2 separate regions of the Homo sapiens genome follow, and region 1 is linked to region 2. Evidence: fine-mapped expression QTL. A gene starts in region 2. The other region holds a variant in brackets. All regions are shown on one strand. Distances are between the middles of the regions. Region 1 overlaps CRTAM (cytotoxic and regulatory T cell molecule). Region 2 holds the start of CRTAM (cytotoxic and regulatory T cell molecule).

Evidence for each region. PIP is the estimated chance that this variant, and not a neighbour inherited with it, causes the effect. A credible set is the group of variants that fine-mapping cannot tell apart.
Region 1: its variant is the best candidate, but not a certain one, in a credible set for the expression of CRTAM in whole blood (INTERVAL, PIP 0.65).

Annotation. Positions count from the first base shown.
Region 1 is chr11:122,861,729-122,869,728 of GRCh38, forward strand. It overlaps CRTAM (cytotoxic and regulatory T cell molecule), which reads left to right. Exons shown (of 10, transcript NM_019604.4): 6 at 736-816; 7 at 2,908-2,991; 8 at 5,681-5,827; 9 at 6,285-6,371. Among named protein-coding and RNA genes, the nearest start is that of JHY, 17 kb to the right of the region's middle. The variant A/G (reference allele first, on the strand shown) is at 3,990.
Region 2 is chr11:122,827,627-122,843,234 of GRCh38, forward strand. It overlaps CRTAM (cytotoxic and regulatory T cell molecule), which reads left to right and starts at 10,874. Exons shown (of 10, transcript NM_019604.4): 1 at 10,874-10,966. The coding sequence starts at 10,921. RefSeq lists an enhancer at 4,550-5,222.

The DNA.
Region 1 (8,000 bases), 30 kb after region 2:
CTGTGCCCACCCGACATGTCAGTGTTAGTATTTGTAAAGTGACAGGCACAGTTATTACATGCTTCCTGGATGTGGCTGGTAAAACCTGTTCAATGACTGGTAAAACCTATACTAGGCTGACCCTCTGGAAACATTCCTAAGCATTGATTAATGTTATACAATAACATTTAGCACTGTGCTTCATAAATAGCTAGGCATTGTACTAAACATGTTATATAAATGAACTTACTAATTCTCACAAAACACTCGAAGAGGTAAATGCTGTCAGTATCTCCATTTTACAGATAAGAGAAAAAAAAGTGCTAGGTCGGGTATCTTGTCCAACTCATTCAGGAGCAGGTAAATAGCAGCACTGGAATTCAGCCCAGTCTGAGGCTGATTCCAAAGCCATCTAATAGGTAGATAGATAGGTGGATGGGTAGATAAACAGACAGAGGGATTGATTGATGGATAGAAGGACACAGATAGAAACAGTGAATACTCTTTGCCTACCACTGCCACCACACAGAGGTCCAGCATGCTGTGCTTTAAGCCAGGCAGGTGAGCAGATGGACACTCAGTGGGATACAGATTCAAAAACCAGAGCAGGAGCCACAGAACACACAGTTCTGGGGTTTCTGCACAACCTCTACAAGCAGGTAGCCGCTAAATATATTCTCCAATCTCTTTTACTGAGCACAATGTGGGTAAAACTGCTCTCTATAGTAGCAGAATTTTGTTTTTCCCCTTTCCTAGTTACTGATGAAGAGACAGCTTCAGATGCTCTGGAGAGAAACTCTCTATCCTCTCAAGACCCACAGCAGCCCACCAGTACTGGTAAGTGTCAAAATCATTCAAACTTGTTTTTAAAAAATCACGTTTCCTTGGGAAGGTTATTTTTCTCATTCTAAGTTTTAAGAATATTTTTTGTTTTAATTTTTACTAAGACCATACAGGCCCCTCCAACTGGCTCCAGCTTTGTACCATCCTAGAGAAGAACCACATCAGGCATCGGAATACTTAGTGGGATGGGCTTCAGGCTGACATAAAGCTTTGCAAGTTCAGTTCTAGTTTGCCTGAGATAGAGATGTACACATGTACACACACACATTCACGACTGTGACATTTGAATTTCCTCTGCAGTAAAGGACAAAGTTGAATTCATTTATAGAGAGACTCGTTTCTTTGTTTTCCCATCTGAAGCACACCAAACACAAAACACAGACTTGGTATCAACAAAGAGAAAAGAAGCAGAAGCTGGAGATTTGGTGTTGTCATTGAATAACAAAATCACCTCTGAAGGCACATCAATTACTTGATTGTCAATAACTCAGGTCATTTTTGATGATGGGATTGAACTACAAATACAGAATAATTTAGAAAGCCTGGATTATAATTCCAATTTTTTAGACAGTGAACTCACTAGAGGTTAACTCAGAGCAATGATTGTATATCTAATTTAACTTTGTATTTTACCTAGCATAGTATCCAGCAATAGCAGCTTCTCAGAAAATGAATTACGAAAGAAAGAAAGAAAGAAAGAGAGAAAGAAAAGAAAGAAAGAAAAAGAAAGAAAGAAAAAGAAAGAAAGAGAGAAAGAAAAGAAAGAAAGAAAAAGAAAGAAAGAAAGAAAGAAAGAAAGAAAAAGAAAGAAAGAAAGAAAAAGAAAGAAAGAAAGAATTGGTTATGGTGCTTTGAGCAAGACTATTAGCCTCATCCAGAAAGGCATAAATTCCTACATATTCTCTTTCCATTTCATGTAATGTGTCAATAATAATTTCATTTGTTGGAATAAGGGCTTTCAGAGCATTATCATGTTCATAGTTCTGAGTATCAGATCATATTTTTAAAAATTTGTATCCTAAATAATATTTAAAAGTAAATGTTTGGGATTTCTAAACACTGATAAATACAACATGTACCATACAATTTTTTGAAGGACAATGGAAATTGAAAATATTATGAAGTGGAACAGCCACATCACTTGCTTTAATAATCCAATATTTGTAAACGTGTTTAGAATCTAGTAATCTTTAACGGCTTGCTACTGAGCAACTCAATTTTCTGCTCTGCTTTTTCATATATAAGACTTTTAAAATAGGGTTTCTAAAATTCCTTTCAGCTTTCCATTTCTACGATTTTATTACATTTAATACCCATTTTCAATAGAATGGGAGGCTTCATTCCCCTCGGGGTCCACATAGTGGCGCTGTGCAATGGACTAAAAAGCAAGAAACTGCAGAGAGAAAAAAGGAAATTGGAAACATCAGCAGTAAAATCTGGAAAAAAAAACCACACAGTTTCTGATTTTTTATAATTTATCTTATCTAGAAAAAACATCATAGTACATCCCACTTCTAATGGGGAGGCAAGCAGAGGTTTGAATAACTGAAGCTATATTTCAACATAAATTTCAGGCTGTAGGTTTTCTATAATTAAAGCTTGGAATGCCGTTCCTCGGTGTTCAGTTGTTATCTTGAAGCATCCTAAAGACCTTCTCCCTAATAGGCCTGATTCAGGATGGAAATATGAAATAATGGTTTAAATGCTGGGCTCTAGAGTTAGGTAAAACAGAGTTTATGTATTGGCTTTGCCACTTATTTGCTACAGGACTTTAGGTACTTTACATAACTGCTCTAAACCTCCGTTTTCTCAGAGCTGTGGTGAGAAATAATATATACCAAGTGCTCAGTTCAAGGCCAGGCACAGAGTAAATGCCCAAAACATTTACCTTAAAAAAATAAGGCAAAGTGAGCCTAGCCATTTGCAATTATGTTTGCAAGAAATCCATAGTTCACAAATGATCTCAGTACTGTTTTTAAATTTGGCTTCCCAAGCTGCTCTGGGAAGACTTACGTAACTACAGTTGTATGTAGTCACATGTATATAATGCATGCATAGCTCATGTTTTATCTTCTTTCACTTTAGTCTCAGTAACGGAAGATTCTAGTACATCGGAGATTGACAAGGAAGAGAAAGAACAAACCACTCAAGATCCTGACTTGACCACCGGTAAGTGTCACCCACTGCATTTAGAATAAACACTCGACATTTTAACCTCTTAATCGATAAATTCAATGGCCTTTGTCAGTCCTCCCTTTTCTTGACCTTTCTGCCCTTTAGGACATGATTGGTTAATCACTCCCTTGTCCCTCCTTGATTTAGTTACCTCTCGGCTTCTTGACATACTTTTCCTGGTTCTGTTATTTGTTGCTAACCACTGCTTCTCTGTATCCATTAATTAACTTATCTTCCTCTTCTGACTTCTTAAATGTGTATGTACTTCTGATTTTACTTCTCCATCTTTTGTTCTTCCCTTTTTTTTATATATATATATTTTTTTTGTGAGACAGAGTTTCTTTCTTGTTGCCCAGGCTGGAGTGCAGTGGTGCAATCCCAGCTCACTATAACCTCCACCTCCCGGGTTCAAGTGATTCTCCTGCCTTAGCCTCCCGAGTAGCTGGGATTACAGGCACACGCCACCACCCCAGCTAATTTTGTATTTTTAGTAGAGATGGGGTTTATCCATGTTGGTCAGTCTGGTCTTGAACTCCCGACCTCCGGTGATCTGCCTGCCTCGGCCTCCCAAAGTGCTGGGATTACAGGCGTGAGCCACCGCGCCCGGCTGTTCTTCCCTTATTTTTTAAAGAGTTTACTCATTCCCAAGATGGTTCCTGTTGCCACTAGGCAAAAGATTTCTCTCTTTTTTTTTTCTGGTTTTGTTTTGTTTTTAGAGACAGGGTCTCTCTCTGTCTCCCAGGCCAGGGTGCAGGGGCACGATCATGTTCACCGCAGCCTTGAACTCCAGGGCTCAAGAGATCTCCTACCTCCACCTCCCAAATAGCTGGGATTACAGGTGTGAGCCACTGTGCCCAGTAAGCAAAAGATTTCTATACCTATATTTCCAGAACATCCTCCTCAGCATTGCTCCCAATTTCTTTCCATTTTCTATGTATCTGTAGCTGAATTTTCTGTGATTTCCCCAAACTCAACATTGCTAAATACCAAAC[A/G]GCACCTTCTCCCACAAAATCAGCTTGTCCAAAGCATCACACAGGCCCCAAAGCAACACACGGGTCCCAAACCTTGGTGTTATCTATCACTCCTATGTATGTGTACAAATATATCTATGTGTATATGTATATGCATATGCACACACGTATATAAAATCAGTCAATTTCCAAGAACTTTTGAGTCTTGTCTTTCAGGTATTTTGTCCATTGTCACTGTTAACGTCCCAATCCAGGCTCTCATCATCTCCTGCATGGAGTATTATAACTTCAGTTTCTCCTCCTCTGGTTCACTTTTAGCACCCTACCATCAAAATATCTCTTTATCTGCATACCTGTGTTCTAAAACCCTTTATAGCTTCCTGAAGTCTACAACACAGAGCATGAGTCCCAAACACCTCATTAGGTGCCATCTATTACCTACTTCTGCAGTCTCATATCTACAAAGTCCTTATGAGATACATATTTTTCTCTGAAAACATCAACCCTTTTCAATCGCCCTGCCCTTGTTTATCCTCACTGCCCCTGGTGGAAGAGGAGACCTCCTCTCACCTCTCCTTACTCCCTCTTCAAGGCCAATATCTTCACTGAAAACTTTTTTGACCAACTCAACCCTCAGAGACCATTCTTGCCTCTGAACCCCTGAACACACTATGATATAAATACATATGGATCCAGAATTTGACATATCTTACTTTTGTTTGTTTTTATTAATTTGTTTATATATAGAGACAGCTAATCCCCAAAGCATGTGAACTGTGCCTTCTGTAGGTCCAAGCACAATGTTCTACACATAGCTGGCACTCCTTAATTATTCATTGGTTAAGATGAGGTGACTAGGACATTTAGCAAGACTACAGCCCATAGAATCAGAATTCTAGGTTTAGAAAGCCTTTTTTTTTTTTTTTAAGAGACAGGTCTCATCTGTCTCCCAGGTTGGAGTGCAGTTTCACAGTCATAGCTCACTGTAACCTTAAACTCCTGGACTCAAGTGATCCTCTGCCTCAGTCTCCCAAGTAGCTAGGACTACAGGTGTGCACCACTGCTCCTGGCTAATTTTTTATTATTATTATTTTTGTAGAGACAAAGTGTCACTATGTTGCCCAGGCTGGTCTCAAACTCCTGGCCTCAAGCAACCCTCCCATCCCAGCCTCCCAAAGTGCTGGGATTACAGGCATGAGCCACTGCACCTGGCTAGAAATATTTTCACAAGCTCATCTGATTTAGCCCAAATGCCTTCCTGTAGGGCCACATTTAACCTAACCAAGATAAATAAATTTTCATTTTATTTGGATAGTTTTTTAAACTCCTTAACAATCCCTCTTGCTACTTAACTATATTTTGCTAAAAATCATTCCTAAAGCTAATTTGAATCTCCTGACTATAACTTAAGTCGATTTTCTCATATGCTTTCTGTAGAAATAAAAAATAACTAGCCCAATAGCTACGTCACTTAAAAAATCTTTTCAAATCATCACACATAATTGCCTTGTTTGTTGTATGCCTGTTTGCTTGTTCTCAGAGAATGAACAATGTAAGTCTCTTTACCTTCAGGGGTAAGCTCTTTCTCATCTCTTCATCTGAGCTGTCTATTAGCTTATATCACATTGTAGAAGTATTGTTACATATTCTCCAGTGGCAAAAAAAAAAAAAAAACCCAAAGTATCTAAACTCCTTTTTCATTTTCCTTATAGAAGCAAATCCTCAGTATTTAGGACTGGCAAGAAAGAAAAGTGGCATCCTGCTGCTCACGCTGGTGTCCTTCCTCATTTTCATACTCTTCATCATAGTCCAGCTCTTCATCATGAAGCTGAGGAAAGCACATGTGATATGGAAGAAAGGTCAGTGGGCAGGGAACCTGACGGGGGCTATAAGACGCCAGAACAAATGGCTAAAAAAAAGGGAAATTCTGTCCATTAAAGCTTTCTGTCAGACACTACATAATCTATTTGATAAGTGCTGTCTCAGATAAGCAATTGTTTGTTTTCTAGTAAACTCGGGTGTGAATCTCCAGGGACTATAGTCTAAGAGTGTATAATCAATAGAAACTAGCATAGATCCAGAAATTGGCATTAAATGATAGACACTTCTATTCACAGAAGGATAAAAATCCCAGGACTGCCTAGCACAGTCCCTACAGGAATCAAAAACTATGTGTTGAATTAATGAGGTATGAGTTATGGGAGGGGCATGGTAAGTCTACTATTGCACAGTAACAGAGGTATTATCTTATTCAAATATACATTTCTACATGTCCATGGCATCAGAAATTAGTTGCTTGATTTTCTTTTTTTGTAGAAAACGAAGTTTCAGAACACACACTAGAAAGTTACAGATCAAGGTCAAATAATGAAGAAACATCATCTGAAGAGAAAAATGGCCAATGTAAGTCAACTGTATGACCTGAGATCTGAACAATGAGGTTCATTAATGTATTAGTCAGATTTCTCCAGAGAGACAGAGACAACAGAATATGTGTGTGTGTGTGTGTGTGTGTGTGTGTGTGTGTGTGTGTGTGTGTGTATGAGGTGGGATTTATTAGGGGAATTGGCTCATGAGATTATGGAGGCTGACAAGTCCTTGGACAGGAGGTCTGCAAACTGGAGACCCTGGTATGCTGGTAGCCTGGCTCAGTCCAAGTTCAAAGGCCTGAGAACTCAGGGGACCGCCAGCGTTAAGTCCTGAAATCCGAAGCTAGGGAGTCTCGAGTTCTGCTGCCAGGAGAGAGGAGGGAGTGTATTCCAGCTCCAGCAGACAGATCAACACATTTGCCTTCTTTCTGATTTTGTTCTTTCTGGGCCCCCAACAGAATGGATGGTGCCCATCCACATCAAGGGCAAATCTCAATGCCCACCTACTCCACTCAGACTCACACACTAATCTCCTCTAGAAACAACCTCATAGACAAACCCAAAAATAATGCTTTACCAGATTTGAGGTATTTCTTAATCCACCCAACTTAACACTTAAAATTAACCATCGCAATTAAGTAGTCGCCTTTAAAAAGAAGGAGGCTGGGTACGGTGGCTCACGCCTGTAATCCCAGCACTTTGGGAGGCCGAGGCGGGCGGATCACGAGGTCAGGAGATCGAGACCATCCTGGCTAACACAGTGAAACCCTGTCTCTACTAAAAATACAAAACAATTAGCCGGGCATGGTGGCAGGAGCCTGTAGTCCCAGCTACTTGGGAGGCTGAGGCAGGAGAATGGCGTGAACCCGGGAGGCGGAGCTTGCAGTGAGCCGAGATCGTGCCACTGCACTCCAACCTGGGTGACAGAGAGGGACTCCACCTCAAAAAAATAAAAATAAAAATAAATAAAAAGAAGGAGAAGAATCAAAATCTGATTTTTTAGCACTAGAAAGTCTCCTAAATCATCCTGTAGAACTTAAGGAGTCTCATCTGCAAAAATAAATAGTAGCAGTTAAGTTCATGTAGCAGAAGGTGACTTCCTTTTGGGAAGCCATCCTTGACTGTTTGACGTCACACACAGGGATACCCCAAGACCACCAGAGGATCCTATGACACCTTTGTCATAGAAGCACGTCTTCCTCCATATTGTAATTTTTGGTGTTTTTACATAGCTACTACAATACTCCTTTAGGTGGTGAGTAATCAGATTTACTCTGTATCCTCAGATTCTAGCACAGGTTAGTTGATAAATTTGTGTTAAATGAGTGACTATAGGCTCAATTAATTCAAGAAGGCATGTGTCAGGTCCTTTGGATGACTTCATTGCAATTCCTGAGACAAAATATGTAAAGAAAATGAAGAGAATCGGGATGGGAAGGAGATTGTGTATGGGAAGTGGAGGTTGGGGATTGTATTCTTGATAAAGATCTGGAAGGCAGAAGCTAGGACTATAGAAAAGCAAGAATATTCCACCTTCCAACCATATTATTTCCTCCATACAAACTAACTTATTCTACCCGCCAGGAGCTGCAAGAAATACAGCGAGTTTTGCCGCTCTATTCTATTGGTTTTACTGAGGTTTTTGTAGGAGGCTTGTCTTTTA
Region 2 (15,608 bases):
ACCTGACTTCAAACTATACTACAAGGCTACAGTAACCAAAACAGCATGGTACTGGTACCAAAACAGAGATATAGATCAATGGAACAGAACAGAGCCCTCAGAAATAACGCCGCATATCTACAACTATCTGATCTTTGACAAACCTGAGAAAAACAAGCAATGGGGAAAGGATTCCCTATTTAATCAATGGTGCTGGGAAAACTGGCTAGCCATATGTAGAAAGCTGAAACTGGATCCCTTCCTTACACCTTATACAAAAATTAATTCAAGATGGATTAAAGACTTAAACGTTAGACCTAAAACCATAAAAACCCTAGAAGAAAACCTAGGCATTACCATTCAGGACATAGGCATGGGCAAGGACTTCATGTCTAAAACACCAAAAGCAACGGCAACAAAAGACAAAATTGACAAATGGGATCTAATTAAACTAAAGAGCTTCTGCACAGCAAAAGAAACTACCATCAGGGTGAACAGGCAACCTACAAAATGGGAGAAAATTTTCGCAACCTACTCATGTGACAAAGGGCTAATATCCAGAATCTACAATGAACTCAAACAAATTTACAAGAAAAAAACAACCCCATCAAAAAGTGGGCGAAGGACATGAACAGACACTTCTCAAAAGAAGACATTTATGCAGCCAAAAAATACATGAAAAAATGCTCACCATCACTGGCCATCAGAGAAATGCAAATCAAAACCACAATGAGATACAATCTCATACCAGTTAGAATGGCAATCATTAAAAAGTCAGGAAACAACAGGTGCTGGAGAGGATGTGGAGAAATAGGAACACTTTTACACTGTTGGTGGGACTGTAAACTAGTTCAACCATTGTGGAAGACAGTGTGGCGATTCCTCAGGGATCTAGAACTAGAAATACCATTTGACCCAGCCATCCCATTTCTGGGTATATACCCAAAGGACTATAAATCATGCTGCTATAAAGACACATGCACACGTATGTTTATTGCGGCATTATTCACAATAGCAAAGACTTGGAACCAACCCAAATGTCCAACAATGATAGACTGGATTAAGAAAATGTGGCACATATACACCATGGAATACTATGCAGCCATAAAAAATGATGAGTTCATGTCCTTTGTAGGGACATGGATGAAATTGGAAATCATCATTCTCAGTAAACTATCACAAGAACAAAAAACCAAATACCACATATTCTCACTCATAGGTGGGAACTGAACAATGAGATCACATGGACACAGGAAGGGGAACATCACACTCTGGGGACTGTTGTGGGGTGGGGGGAGGGCGGAGGGATAGCATTGGGAGATATACCTAATGCTCGATGACGAGTTGGTGGGTGCAGCGCATCAGCATGGCACATGTATACATATGTAACTAACCTGCACAATGTGCACATGTACCCTAAAACTTAAAGTATTAAAAAAAAAAAAAAAACCCAGCCCAGTTCATGGCTTGTTTGGCAGCAACCCTGAGACGCTTTACAGTCCTAGACCCTAAAAGGTCAAAAGGCTGTCTTATTCTCAATATACATTTTATTACCCAATCTGCTCCTGACATTAAATAAAACTCCAAAAATTAAATTCCAGCCCTCAAACCCCACAATAAGATTTAATTAACCTCACCTTCAAAGTATACAATAATAGAAAAAAGTTGCAATTCCTTGCCTCCACTGTAAGACAAACCCCAGCCACATCTCCAGCAAACAAGAACTTCCAAACGCCTGAACCACAGCGGCCAGGCATTCCTCCAGAACCTCCTCCCCCAGGAGCTTCCTACAAGTGCCAGAAATCTGACCACCAGGCCAAGGAATGCCCACAGCCCAGGATTCCTCCTAAGCCACATCCCATCTGTGCAGGACCCCACTGGAAATCAGAATGTTCAACTCACTTGGCAACCACTCCCAGAGCCCCTGGAACTCTGGCCCAAGGCTCTCTGACTCCTTCCCAGATCTTCTCGGCTTAGCAGCTGAAGACTGACACCGCCTGATCGCCTCAGAAGCCTACAGGACCAACACAGACACTAAGTAACTCTCACAGTAGAAGGTAAGTCCGTCCCTTTCTTAGTCAATACGGAGGCTACCCACTCCACATTACCTTCTTTTCAAAGGCGTGTTTCCCTTGCCTCCATAACTGTTGTAGGTATTGACAGCCAGGCTTCTAAACCTCTTAAAACTCCCCAACTCTAGTGCCAACTTAGACGATACTCTTTTAAGCACTCCTTTTTAGTTATCCCCACCTGCCCAGTTCCCTTATTAGGCTGAGACACTTTAACTTAATTATCTGCTTCCCTGACTATTCCTGGATTACAGCTACATCTCATTGCCGCCCTTCTTCCCAATCCAAAGCCTCCTTTGCATCCTCCTCTTGTATCCCCCAACCTTAACCCCCAAGTATAGGATACCTCTACTCCCTCCTTGGCGACCGGTCACGCACCCCTTACCATCTCATTAAAACCTAATCACCTTTACTCCTCTCAATGCCAAGATTCCATTCCACAGCACGATTTAAAAAGATTAAAGACTGTTATCACTCGCCTGCTACAGCATGGCCTTTTAAAGCCTATAAACTCTCCTTATAATTCCCCCATTTTACCTGTCCTAGAACCAGACAAGCCTTACAGGTTAGTTCAGGATCTGCGCTTTATCAACCAAACTGTTTTGCCTATCCACCCCGTGGTGCCAAATCCATATACTCTCCTATCCTCAATACCTCCCTCCACAACCCATTATTCTGTTCTGGATCTCAAACATGCTTTCTTTACTATTCCTTTGCACCCTTCATCCCAGCCTCTCTTCGCTTTCACTTGGACTGACCCTGACACCCATCAGGCTCAGCAAATTACCTAGGCTGTACTGCCGCAAGGCTTCACAGACAGCCCCCATTACTTCAGTCAAGCCCAAATTTCATCCTCATCTGTTACCTATCTCGGCATAATTCTCATAAAAACACACGTGCTTTCCCTGCTGACCGTGTCCGATTAATCTCCCAAACCTCAATCCCTTACAAAACAACAACTCCTTTCCTTCCTAGGCATGGTTAGCGTGGTCAGAATTCTTACACAAGAGCCAGGACCGCACCCTGTAGCCTTCCTGTCCAAACAACTTGACCTTACTGTTTTAGCCTAGCCCTCATGTCTGTGTGCAGCAGCTGCCGCTGCTTTAATACTTTTAGAGGCCCTAAAAATCACAAACTATGCTCAATTCACTCTCTACATTTCTCATAACTTCCAAAATCTATTTTCTTCCTCATACCTGATGCATATGCTTTCTGCTCCCCGGCTCCTTCAGCTGTACTCACTCTTTGTTAAGTCCCACAATTACCATTGTTCCTGGCCTGGACTTCAATCCAGCCTCCCACGTTATTCCTGATACCACACCTGACCCCCATGACTGTATCTCTCTGATCCACCTGACATTCACCCCATTTCCCCATATTTCCTTCTTTCCTGTTCCTCACCCTGATCACGCTTGATTTATTGATGGCGGTTCCACCAGGCCTAATTGCCACACACCAGCAAAGGCAGGCTATGCTATAGTACAAGCCACTAGCCTGCCTCTTAGAACCTCTCATTTCCTTTCCATCGTGGAAATCTATCCTCAAGGAAATAACTTCTCAGTGTTCCATCTGCTATTCTACTATCCCTCAGGGATTACTCAGGCCCCCTCCCTTCCCTACACATCAAGCTCGAGGATTTGCCCCAACCCAGGACTAGCAAATTAGCTTTACTCAACATGCCCCGAGTCAGATAACTAAAATACCTCTTAGTCTAGGTAGACACTTTCACTAGTTAAGTACAGTCCTTTCCTACAGGGTCTGAGAAGGCCACCGCAGTCATTTCTTCCCTTCTGTCAGACATAATTCCTCAGTTTAGCCTTCCCACCTCTATACAGTCTGATAACAGACCAGCCTTTATTAGTCAAATCAGCCAAGCAGGTTTTCAGGCTCTTGGTATTCAGTGAAACCTTTATATCCCTTACGGTTCTCCGTCTTCAGGAAAAGTAGAACGGACTAAAGGTCTTTTAAAAACACACCTCACCAAGCTCAGCCACCAACTTAAAAAGGACTGGACAATACTTTTACCACTTTACCTTCTCAGAAGTCAGACCTGTCCTCAGAATGCTACAAGGTACAGCCCATTTGAGCTCCTGTATAGACACTCCTTTTTATTAGGCCCCAGTCTCATTCCAGACACCAGACCAACTTAGACTGTGCCCCCAAAAAACTTGTCATCCCTACTATCTTCTCTCTAGTCATACTCCTATTCACCATTCTCAACTACTCATACATGCCCTGCTCTTGTTTACACTGCCGGTTTACACTGTTTCTCCAAGCCATCACAGCTGATATCTCCTGGTGCTATCCCCAAACTGCCACTCTTAACTCTTGAAGTAAATAAATAATCTTTGCTGGCAGGACTATGCTGAATCTCCTTAGGCTCTCTCTAATCAGATGTCCTGAGTCGTCCCAATTCTTAGACCTTTTATACCTGTTTTTCTCCTTCTCTTATTCCATTTAGTTTTTCAATTCATACAGAACTGTATCCAGGCCATCATCAATAATTCTAAATGATAAATATTCCTTCTAACAACCCCACAATATCACCCCTTACCACAAAATCTTCCTTCAGCTTAATCTCTCCCACTCTAGGTTCCCACGCCGCCCCTAATCCCGCTCGAAGCAGCTCTGAGAAACATCGCCCATTCTCTCTCTCCATACCACCCCCCAAAATTTTCACCGTCCCAACACTTTACCACTATTTCGTTTTATTTTTCTTATTAATATAAGAAGACAGGAATGTCAGGCCTCTGAACCCAAGCTAAGTCATCATATCCCCTGTGACCTGCACATACACATCCAGATGGCCAGTTCCTGCCTTAATTGATGACATTCCAGCATAAAAGAAGTGAAAATGGCCTGTTCCTGCCTTAACTGATGACATTGTCTTGTGAAATTCCTTCTCCTGGCTCATCCTGGCTCAAAAGCTCCCCCACTGAGCACCTTGTGACCCCCACTCTGCCCGCCAGAGAACACCCACTTTTGACTGTAATTTTCTTTTATCTACCCAAATCCTATAAAACGGCCCCACACTTATCTCCCTTTGCTGCCTCTCTTTTCGGACTCAGCCCGCCTGCACCCAGGTGATTAAAAGCTTTATTGCTCACACAAAGCCTGTTTAGTGGTCTCTTCACACAGACACGCATGAAAGTTGCCTTAATGATTTACCACTTCCCTTCGTATAACTCTTTATAATTAAAAAAAAAAACACTTCCTCATTTGATCCTCATAACAATTTTACAAAGTAAGGAGATCAGGTATTATCAACTCAATGAATGAAACTAAGATACTGAGCTTGTGGATTCATTCATCATTCTGTAATACTTATTGAACACTATTTCCAGCAGAGTGGCAGGCTGGAGCTATAGTGGCAAAAAAGAATGCAAGGCCCCTGCTCTGATGGAGTGGGAGACAGAGAATGAATACATAAATAAACAAGATAATTACAGATTTTGATAAATGCTCTTTAGGAAATAAACTGGGTAATATGATAGAAAGTAACTTTGAAGGGATGTGGGGCAGGGGTTACACTCTTAGTTAGGGCATGGCGTCCCTGAACAGGTGATGATGAAACCAACAGTTAAAACTGAGCAGGAGCTGGTTGGGCTGAAGACCTAAACGAGGAGGGTATCAGGAAGCTGTGTATACAGAAGCCCTCACATGGGAAGACACTAGCTGGGTTAGAACAGAAGAGGCTGGGGAGCTAAAGTGTAGTAAGCATGATAGAAAGTGGGGGGCTTATAAAGACATGGGGTCTTACAGACCAGGGGTCAGCAAAGTATTGCTCATTGTGCAGAATCTCACTCGTGAGCAGAATCTGGCCCACAGCCTGCCTGTACAGCTGCAGGCTAAGAATGATTTTTAGCTTTTCAAATCTTTGGGGGAAAAAGCAAAGAATAAAGAGATTGATATATGAAATTAGAGTTCCAGTATATATAAATAAAATTTTATTGGAACACAGCCTCATTCACTTATTTACATATTGCCTATGGCTATTCCAGGATACAAGGGCAGAGTTGAGAAGTAAAACTATTTTAAATGTTTATACTTGGCCCCTTGCAGAAAAAGTGGGTTGATCTCATCATAGACCACGGTGAAACATTTGGATTTTATTCTAAATCCACAGAATCCAGCATCAAAACTATTTTACCTGACATAACAATTCATAGATTGGTGGCATCCAGTGGCCAGCAAAGTAACAGCTAGCATTTGAGTGCTTGTATTTATCAGACACTTTTCTAAGTACTTCACATGTGTAAGCTTTTTAAATCTTCTCACCAACTCTATTCGGTAGAAACTATTATTCCCGATTTATGAAAGAGGAAGTTGAATCTTAGAAAGATTCAATAATTCACACACAGTCACACGGCTCATGAGTGTTAGGGCTGAGACCAGGACCATGTCAGCCTGGTTCCAGAGCCTGGACTAATCATGGAAAATGTTTTTTAAAAGAAACTTCAATGAAAATATTGCAGAAGCCTGAGGTGTCTTGGGGATACTTGGGTTCTTCAGAATACAGTTTGGAAACCACAACTTTCATCTAATCTCATTTATAGATGAAGACGCCAGGGCTGGTCACTTATCTGGGCAGAGCTCCATGAGCTGGGGCCTGAAGCTGGCCCTTGCTATCCTGTGGTATACTCTCCGAAACCACAATTGCCTTCTGAAATCAGCTCATATTTGGGTTGTTTTCAGAATGATCTATTTCACTAGAGTAAATAAAGTTTCTACCCTCACGAAAGCCCAGGTTCACAATAGTAGGTTTTTTCGGCAGAAGTCTTAACAAAAGGTGAATGATGCCTTTCCTCCTCCCGGCACACCCAACCTACCATGGTTCCTGTGGGGATGAGATGCTGCTCCAGCCACCTGAGGTCTGCAGATTTATGGAGAATGTTTTTTGTGCCAAGATGCTGGGTGCTCTGGGTATTATAATATTTTCAATTTAACCATCCATGAGTGCCCCATAAAGAAGGTGTGGCCCCGGGTGAGCTGGTTCTCTTCCACCGAGGGCAAGTATAAAAATTTGAAGTCCTTCAAAGGAATCTCATAGACAAAGAAAAATGTGTGTGTGTGTGTGTGTGTGTGTGTGTGTGTGTGTATCACTGACTCACTGTGTCACTTCAGGCAAACTTCTTAATTCTTTGGGTTTTTTAAATTTTATTTATTTTTTTTGAGACAGAGTCTCGTTCTGTCGCCGAGGCTGGAGGGCAGTGGCGCAATCTCGGCTCACTGCAACCTCCGCCTCCCAAGTTCAAGCAATTCTCCTGCCTCAGCCTCCCAAGTAGCTGGAACTACAGCTACCGTAGTCTGGCTAATTTTTTGTATTTTAGTAGAGATAGGGATTCACCGTGTTGCCCAGGCTGGTTGCAAACCCCTGAGCTTAGGCAATCCACCCATCTCAGCCTCCCAAAGTGCTGAGATTACAGGCGTGAGCCACCACGCCCGGCCAATTCTTCATTTTTAAAAATGCTACAGTCGAACTTTCTCAGCTCCTGCCTTATGATTCCTGGACAGTCACCTCAGGCTGTAATTATTCTTCCCATTTTACAAGTGAGGAAACTGATTCCAACAGGCAGGTAGTGTGCTTAGTGCTACACAGCTGCTAGTGACAGGGCCTAGGGGACAAGCCTGGGTCTGTCTGCTACTCACTCCCATGCTCGTCCCACTAAGCTCCCACTACTGCTAGGAAACTTCTCTCTGAATCAATAATTAATTTCAAAGGCTGCTGCTCTGGCTTAGAAACTCCACAGTCACTTTGTGCAAGTTTTACAGCAGTGCTCAGAAAACCTCAACACTTGGTGTGAGTTATCTGAGGCATCTTCTGGTAGATGCAGGCGAGTCCACCTCTTACTCTGACCTTGGGAAAGGTCACGATTCTTCACAGAATCTGTGAAAGGTCAAGAAGAAAGTGTAGGCCCCTTTTGTAAATGCAACAAAAAAACCCAGTGGCTTCTAGACATAAGGAAATCCCCTGTTTTCTGACCCTTAAAACAGTTCATCTTTAGCCTATTTAATAAATGTCTTATTTTTCATGTTTGCACCCCCCCACCCCCAAAACTCAGGTTGACAAGGGTGACGATGAAAAATAGAGAGGATGTTTGTTTATTTCTCCAAAATATGTCCCCCCTCTGCCACCCCACCAAATGTTATTTCCTATTAGTATTGAAACATAATATGAAGATTTCATAAAACGGAGACCAAAATGACAAACTAGCTATCAGTTGTGAGGTCTCCCACATACTGTTCAGTAGACTCTTTCCCATTAGAAAATAGGTAGACCACTTATTACCTTCCAACCTCGTCTTTTTCTCCCAATTCACTGAGCAGCCACAATCTGCTGCCCTCTCCTGTTGAATACTACATGAGCTGCAGGCTGAAGTGGGGGTAATGAGAACAGGGACCCTGGAAAGCACACATGTATGTCGTCCACCAGTTCACCTTGTAGCATTTCCCCCACCAACCGTTCTTAATGTCCAAGTCCAGTGGACTATTGTGACATTTGTCAAGGTTTTCAACCAGTTGAATATGGCACCCGTGGATGAAAAGGATACACTCTCCATCGTCCAAAGTGCAATTTAAAGTAAGCTCTTCTTTAATGCTCTGGGGAAATTGTAAGTCAAACATCTTTTTAGACTTCAGAGCAAAAAGAGTAGCATTTACATCTCAAATAAAGAGTCAATTTAGTCTTTCATTCACTCGTTGACAACCTATGTCAAGTGTTGTTGTGGGTCAGGTTCCTGGGAAACAGAAGCTGATACAGAGATCCGTGTGCAGAAGTTTATAGATGAGTACTCTTGGTGACAAGAAGGAAGCAAGTTGGAGAATCGGTAGAAGCTGGACTGAGGTGCAGTTACAACAAAGATCTCAGCTGATCCTGATCCCTTGGGGAGCTTCAGAGTTGCTCCACCTCAAGGCAAGGGAAAAGGACCTTGAGACCCCCTCATGGATGCCCTATGGAGGAAGAGTGACCCTGGGTAAACTGTTCTCTTCTACTGAGGACAAGTATAAAAATTAGAAGTTCCTGGATGGAATATTATGAGCAAAAGGGAAAAAATTAAAAAATGAAAAATTTGAAAGACAAAATATTGTGTTTTGGAGGATTTTTTATTTTTATTTTTTTAAGACAGGGTGTCACTTTGTCACCCAGATTGCAGTACAGTAGTGTGATCACGGCTCACCGCAGCCTCAACCTCCTGCATTCAAGCAACCCTTCCACCTCAGCCTCCCAAGTATCTGGGACTACAGGCATGCACCACCATGCTCAGCTAATTTTTGTATTTTTTGTAGAGATGGGGGTCTCACTATGTTGCCCAGGTTGGTCTTGAACTCCTGGCTTCAGATGATCCTCACACCTCAGCCTCCCAAAATGCTAAGATTACAGGCATGAGCCACTGTGCCCAGCCAACAAAATATTTGGAAGACATTTTTGATGAGTAAGACTTTTCCTACCCAAACTTCATCAAATTTATCAGAGTATTAACACTAATTTCAATTAGAGCCAGTAAGTAGTGTTTCCTTTTCATTTTCCAAGCATTGCAGACTGATCTCTGTTTTCTAAACATAAACTTACTAATATTTTACTGTGTGCTCCTGGAAAAACTACATTAAATCTATCTCAATTTGTCCAATTAATGAAAATTAAATACCAGAACTGTTCATATGTACATTGTCTCCCCCACTAGATTATATTCTCCTGAAAAACAAGGAATTTATGTTTTTTATTTGAGCATGTCTCAAAGTAGTGCATACTAGATGCTGTACAGGTGACAAGATGAATGGGTGGATAGAAGGATGGATGGATGGATGGATGGATGGATGGATGGACGGACGGACATATGTATAGATAGATGGGTGGGTAAATGGATGAATGAGTGGGTGAATGGATGAATGCGTGGGTGGATAGATAGATGGGTGGTTGGGTGGATGGATGAGTATTTGCATGTATAGATAGATGGGTGGGTGAATGAATAGGTCATGGACGGATGGATGGATGGATAGATGGATGGGTGAATGGATGGATGGGTGGATAAATGGATGGATGGATGGATGGATGGATGGATGGATGGATGGATGGATGGATGGATAGATGGATAGATGGATGGATAAATAGATGGATGGCTGGCTGGCTGGATGGATGGAGAGATGGATGGATGTGTGGATGAATAGATGGATGGATGGGTGGATGGGGAATGAGTGGGCAGGTAATACATGAGTGAGTGGGTGGATGGAAGGATAAATGGATGGGTGGATGGATGTGTGGGTGGATGGATGGAAGGATGGATGGATGGATAGGTGGATGAATAGATTTGTATTTGTGAGTGGGTGGATGAAAAGATGGGTGGATGGGTGGGTGGACAGATATATAGATTTCAAAAATGAGTATATCTATATGAATGAATGAATTCCTCCCCGACAACAATTATAAATTGATGTCAGCATAGAAATAAAATATTCCCAAAGGTTGAGCAAAAATTATCTAATTGTATTTATCTAATAAACTAGAAAAGTAAAAATAAGGATGACGTCACTACACAGGGACATTTTACAGTATTTCTCCCACCCATGCTCCCTCTAAAAACCTTGCAACTAGTTGATTTACCAGTACTACCCACTTGTGGTAAAACAATTTTTGTCACCAACACATCACTCACACCTCTCTGCCATCAAGATAATACATGTGGTCCCCAAAATGTTCCACCAGGAGGTGTTCTGGGGGCAGCTAACTAAGAGGGGGCTTCCAGACAGATGGAGGAGTTGATACACATGAGGTCACAGATCTACTGCCTCTCCCCCTTTAAAAGAAACTACTCAGCTCCATTTGTCTCAGAATCTAGAGGAAGTTGACAAAGGTGCCACAGCAGCACAGCACAGTATGTGGTGGAGAGTTCTCAGCTTGCTGGCATGGTTCCCCTTGCAAGGTAAGGACTTAGAGTTATTTTTGTTGTTGCTCAGCTGACTTAATGTTTTGCCACATCTACCTATCAGTCAGTCAACTGCATTTACAGAGGAGCTGCTGTAGAAGACAACCCAGGTAACTGCTAATACTTTCCAAGCCATGCTCAAATCATGCATCTGAGGGATGTTACTGCGTTTATTTGATCTCTCGTTCAATGGCTAAGGAGTATAGAAAGGATCATTATAGTGTGTGTCTCTGTGGGTCCTATGTTACGGCAAGATGAAACAAGCTTATTAGGCTCTGTCTTTTAAGGGCATACCAGTTGAAAGAGCATCCGTATTGAATTTTATTTTATTTTATTTATTTATTTATTTATGAGACACAGTCTCGCTCTGTCGCCCAGGCTGGAGTGCAGCGGCACGACCTCGGCTCACTGCAAGCTCCGCCTCCCGGGTTCACGCCTTTCTCCTGCCTCAGCCTCCCAAGTAGCTGGGACTACAGGTGCCCGCCACCACCACGCCCGGCTAATTTTTTTATATTTTTAGTAGAGACGGGGTTTCACCGTGTTAGCCAGGATGGTCTCAATCTCCTGACCTCGTGATCTGCCCACCTCAGCCTCCCAAAGTGCTGGGATTACAGGCGTAAGCCACCGCGCCCGGCCTCCACGTTGAATTTTAAAATTTCCTTGCTGTATAAATCTTAGCCAAACGATTTAATCTCTTTGAAACTCAGTTTCTGCATCTTAAAATGAAAATGATAAAAACTTTTGATCCACCAAACTCCCTGGATTGTTAGAAGGATCAAATTTCAAATGTGAAAGCACTTTGAAAATGATAAAGCGCTGTGCAACACTTATTTAGCTCAGAGGTAATAATGAGACCAATGAAAACTTCGTGTTTATTTTTAAAGAGTAAGTTATACTTTACATTTTACTATAATTTTCAAATTTGGATTTTAGTGCTTAATCCTAATGTAGCATTATGAAAATTAAGGATAGAAGCAGTTACCTTTTTGGAGCAGGTCAAATTATTTTCTACCCAAAAGTGGGGGCAGGGGTGTAGGAAGTGGCTCCTGTTGTCCCTCAGTCTCTGCTTACAATTGTATCAGATTCATGCAAAGGACATCCCTCACAAATCCACTCAAAAATTTTGCTTTTTGTGTGTTTGTTACCAAATATTGAAACTGTAGTTCTGTTTCATGAAATGCACCTATCCTTCTAAATCTACATTTAATCTGGAATGGCATCTGAAGGACGCTACTTTAAAAAACTCGATTTCCTATTTTACATAGTACTTCAATTCCCTATTTTATATACTTCAATTAATGCCTTCTTTTTTTGGTCCCTGTACCCTGAGGCACTTAATAAGGATTCAATTTTGGTAATGAATAATATTAGTTTCTTCATTAAGTGGCTTAAAGAATAGCTAATACATTCAAAAAGAGTACATTTAGACAGCTAAAATTAGGATGATTTCAATTTTTCCAGAGTTTAAAGCCTTTCACTGACCTTAACTTTTTCAGGCTTTGAGTTATTGCCTCATAAAAAATAACTCATAAAAATACATTTTTTAAATAAATAGCAAAAATTATGTTTCAAGGTAAACCTAAATTACTTAAATATTATTTATATAGAGAGGAAAAATATTGTTTCATGCACAGTGCTGAGTACTTTGTGTTAATTACACTTAATCATAGCGGAAGTACTGAGGTAGGTACTAATATCCCCAATTTAAAGATGAGAAAAGAAGTTATGTAACCTGCCCAAGTTTTAAAGCTAGAATATGACAACATAAATACCAGCCTATAAAGCACATAGTAAAAGTATTTATTTCATGAAACTTCTAATTAACGTGTGTGTGTGTGTGTGTGTACTAGTTGTGACAGAAAATGTATTAATGTGGATCAAAAGTTGGAAAACCACTGACTTTCACAATTTGGAGGATTCAATATTAAAAAGTCCTATTTGAAAACTCGTTCAAGGGGCCACCCGAGGGCATCTAAGCTCAATGGCATTTGAGCAGTGGCTGCCACCCCTGACCTAACCTTGCTCAAGCCCATCCCAGACGTAATTAGGAGGAGGTGACCATGTTGCTTTCTTGTCAGCAAAAAAGGCAGCAAATCATCAGTTTTGGCAAAGCTATAAACTGTCAGCTGATTTTAGCAAATTAAATTATGGGAAGATCACTGTGACTACTTCTACAGTGTTACTTCTATGGCTGCCAAAAATTTATGGAAAAAAAAAAAGTCACGTAATCTCAGAGCCTGCCCTCTTTTCAAGGCCACTCCCAGAATAAATAGTCTTAGGACTGGTAAAAACACAATAAAAATGAAGCATTTTTCAAAATTCATCCCATTAAATTACACTGTAGACAATGAAAATGTCAAATCCAATGAATTTTGAACCCTCTGTTTTCATTGTTTTGTGGAGGGTAGGATGCAGAAAACAAAGGAAAATTGCAAATTGAGTAGTTCTTTTCATACTTTCTTTGCCCAGGAAAAAGTCACATGTTAGATGACATGTTGAGACAGCTTCTTTAAAATGTACTAAAAATATTCCGATTCTGACAAGTCTGATTTATTTTTATACCTGCAATTTTCTCTATTGATTCAATCTAAAAATAATAAAAATCTTTTTTTGTAATGATCTGAATTAAAACACACTTTTGCTTAATGCCTCATGACAGTCATGTAACTAGGGCTCTGATTTGAGAATTAATGCATTGCATGTCTCTGGCTTTAACTTAGCCCTAGTCTTTATTATTTGATATAACAGTTAAAGAGCAAAGTTAGCATCCTATTATAATATTTATTCCTAAATATATACTTTTACTCTATTTTTTTTTTTTTTGAGACAGAGTCTTGCTCCGTCGCCCAGGCTGGAGTGCAGTGGTGTGATCTCAGCTCACTGCAAGCTCCACCTCCCGGGTTGACGCCATTCTCCTGCCTCAGCCTCCCGAGTAGCTGGGACTACAGGCACCCGCCACCACTCCTGGCTAATTTTTTGTATTTTTAGTAGAGACAGGCTTTCACCATGTTAGCCAGGATAGTCTCGATCTCCTGATCTCATGATCCGCCTGCCTCAGCCTTCCAAAGTGCTGGGATTACAGGTGTGAGCCACCGAGCCCGGCCTATTTACTCATTTTTATCCACTAATTCAACCAATATCTAAAATTTTACATTATGCTAAAATGAGTGGATGGCAAACAGCTTTTCCATAAGGAGTTTGTAATCTATCTACAGAGAAACACCTGTAACCAAATAATTATAAAGTAATGTGCTAAGTGCTGTAATAGAAGTATATCTCAAGACTTTGGGAAACTAGGGGAAAGACATTATGGGGAAAAGGGAAGCTAAGGCCTGTTTTGGAAGTTTTGACAAAAGTTGTGTAATTTGAGTTGAGCCTATAAGTTGAGTCTTGAGTTGGGTCTTAATGTTGAGTCTTGAAGGAGATGAGAAAGACATTCCAGGACAAGAGAATATCATAGAAAAAGACAAACTATCTTCTGGAGCCTGGAACTTTCTGGAAACAGCAAGTGGACATGTACAAGGACTATCTGAAAAGGAGTATCACGACATGGCAAAGGAGGAGAACACAGGAGTCAAGTCGGCTGGAATTTGGGCCTGATTCCTATAGGCAATGGAAGCCATAGCAAACACTTGAATGAAGGAAGAGACATAATCAAATTCATGGGTTATATGTTTGTTTGTTTGTTTGTTTGTTTGTTGAGATGGAATTTCATTCTTGTTGCCCTGGCTGGAGTGCAATGGCACAATCTCACTCACCACAACCTCCACCTCCCAGGTTCAAGTGATTCTCCTGCCTCAGCCTCCAGAGTAGCTGGGATTACAGGTGCCTGCCACCATCCCTGGCTAATTTTTTGTATTTTTAGTAGACATGGGGTTTCACTATGTCGGCCAGGCTGGTCTCGAACTCCTGACCTCAGGAGATCCACCCGCCTCGGCCTCCCAAAGTGCTGGGATTACAGGCGTTGAGCCACCACGCCCGGCCTCAAATTCATGGTTTTAAAATGTAATCCTAGAACCAGATGATGATGATGAATTAGAGAGAAGAGAGACTAGAACTAAGTTATTACAGTGGTCCAGGAAAGAAATGATGGAGTCCTTAACTAAGGCAGCAATAATAGTGACAAAAGAGGACTAAATTGATTAAAGGATGTTTTGGAGAAAGAAGAGTTTAGAGCACCTCTCAAATATCTGGTGTGCAGTGGTTGGTGATGACATTAATTTATATAAGGGAACTCTAGAATGGGGCAGGTGGCATATCTGTGTTAGACATGGGTGGAGCATGGGGACAGTAGAGATAACGAGTTCCAATGGGACATGTAGAGTTTGGGGTCTTTGCAGGACAGGCTTGCTCTGCTCTGGTTTTAAATTTATTGCATGTAAAAACTAGGCTATTAAGGCAAGAAAAGGAAAGAATATTTTATTCTTTTCTCAGTCTACATGATAGTCTATAGTAGAGGTAAAGATTGCACATGAGAACTTCCAAAATCTTGGGAAAGACCAAAAAATCTTACGAACTGCACTGGTTTTGTCTATGTGTACTTTGGTAGATGGCTGTTACTGCTGCTTGTCCTTTTGTTTGGGAGTAGATCACATGTGCTTTGGTGTAAAGCCATCCACTGATAGGACAATTAGTTCAT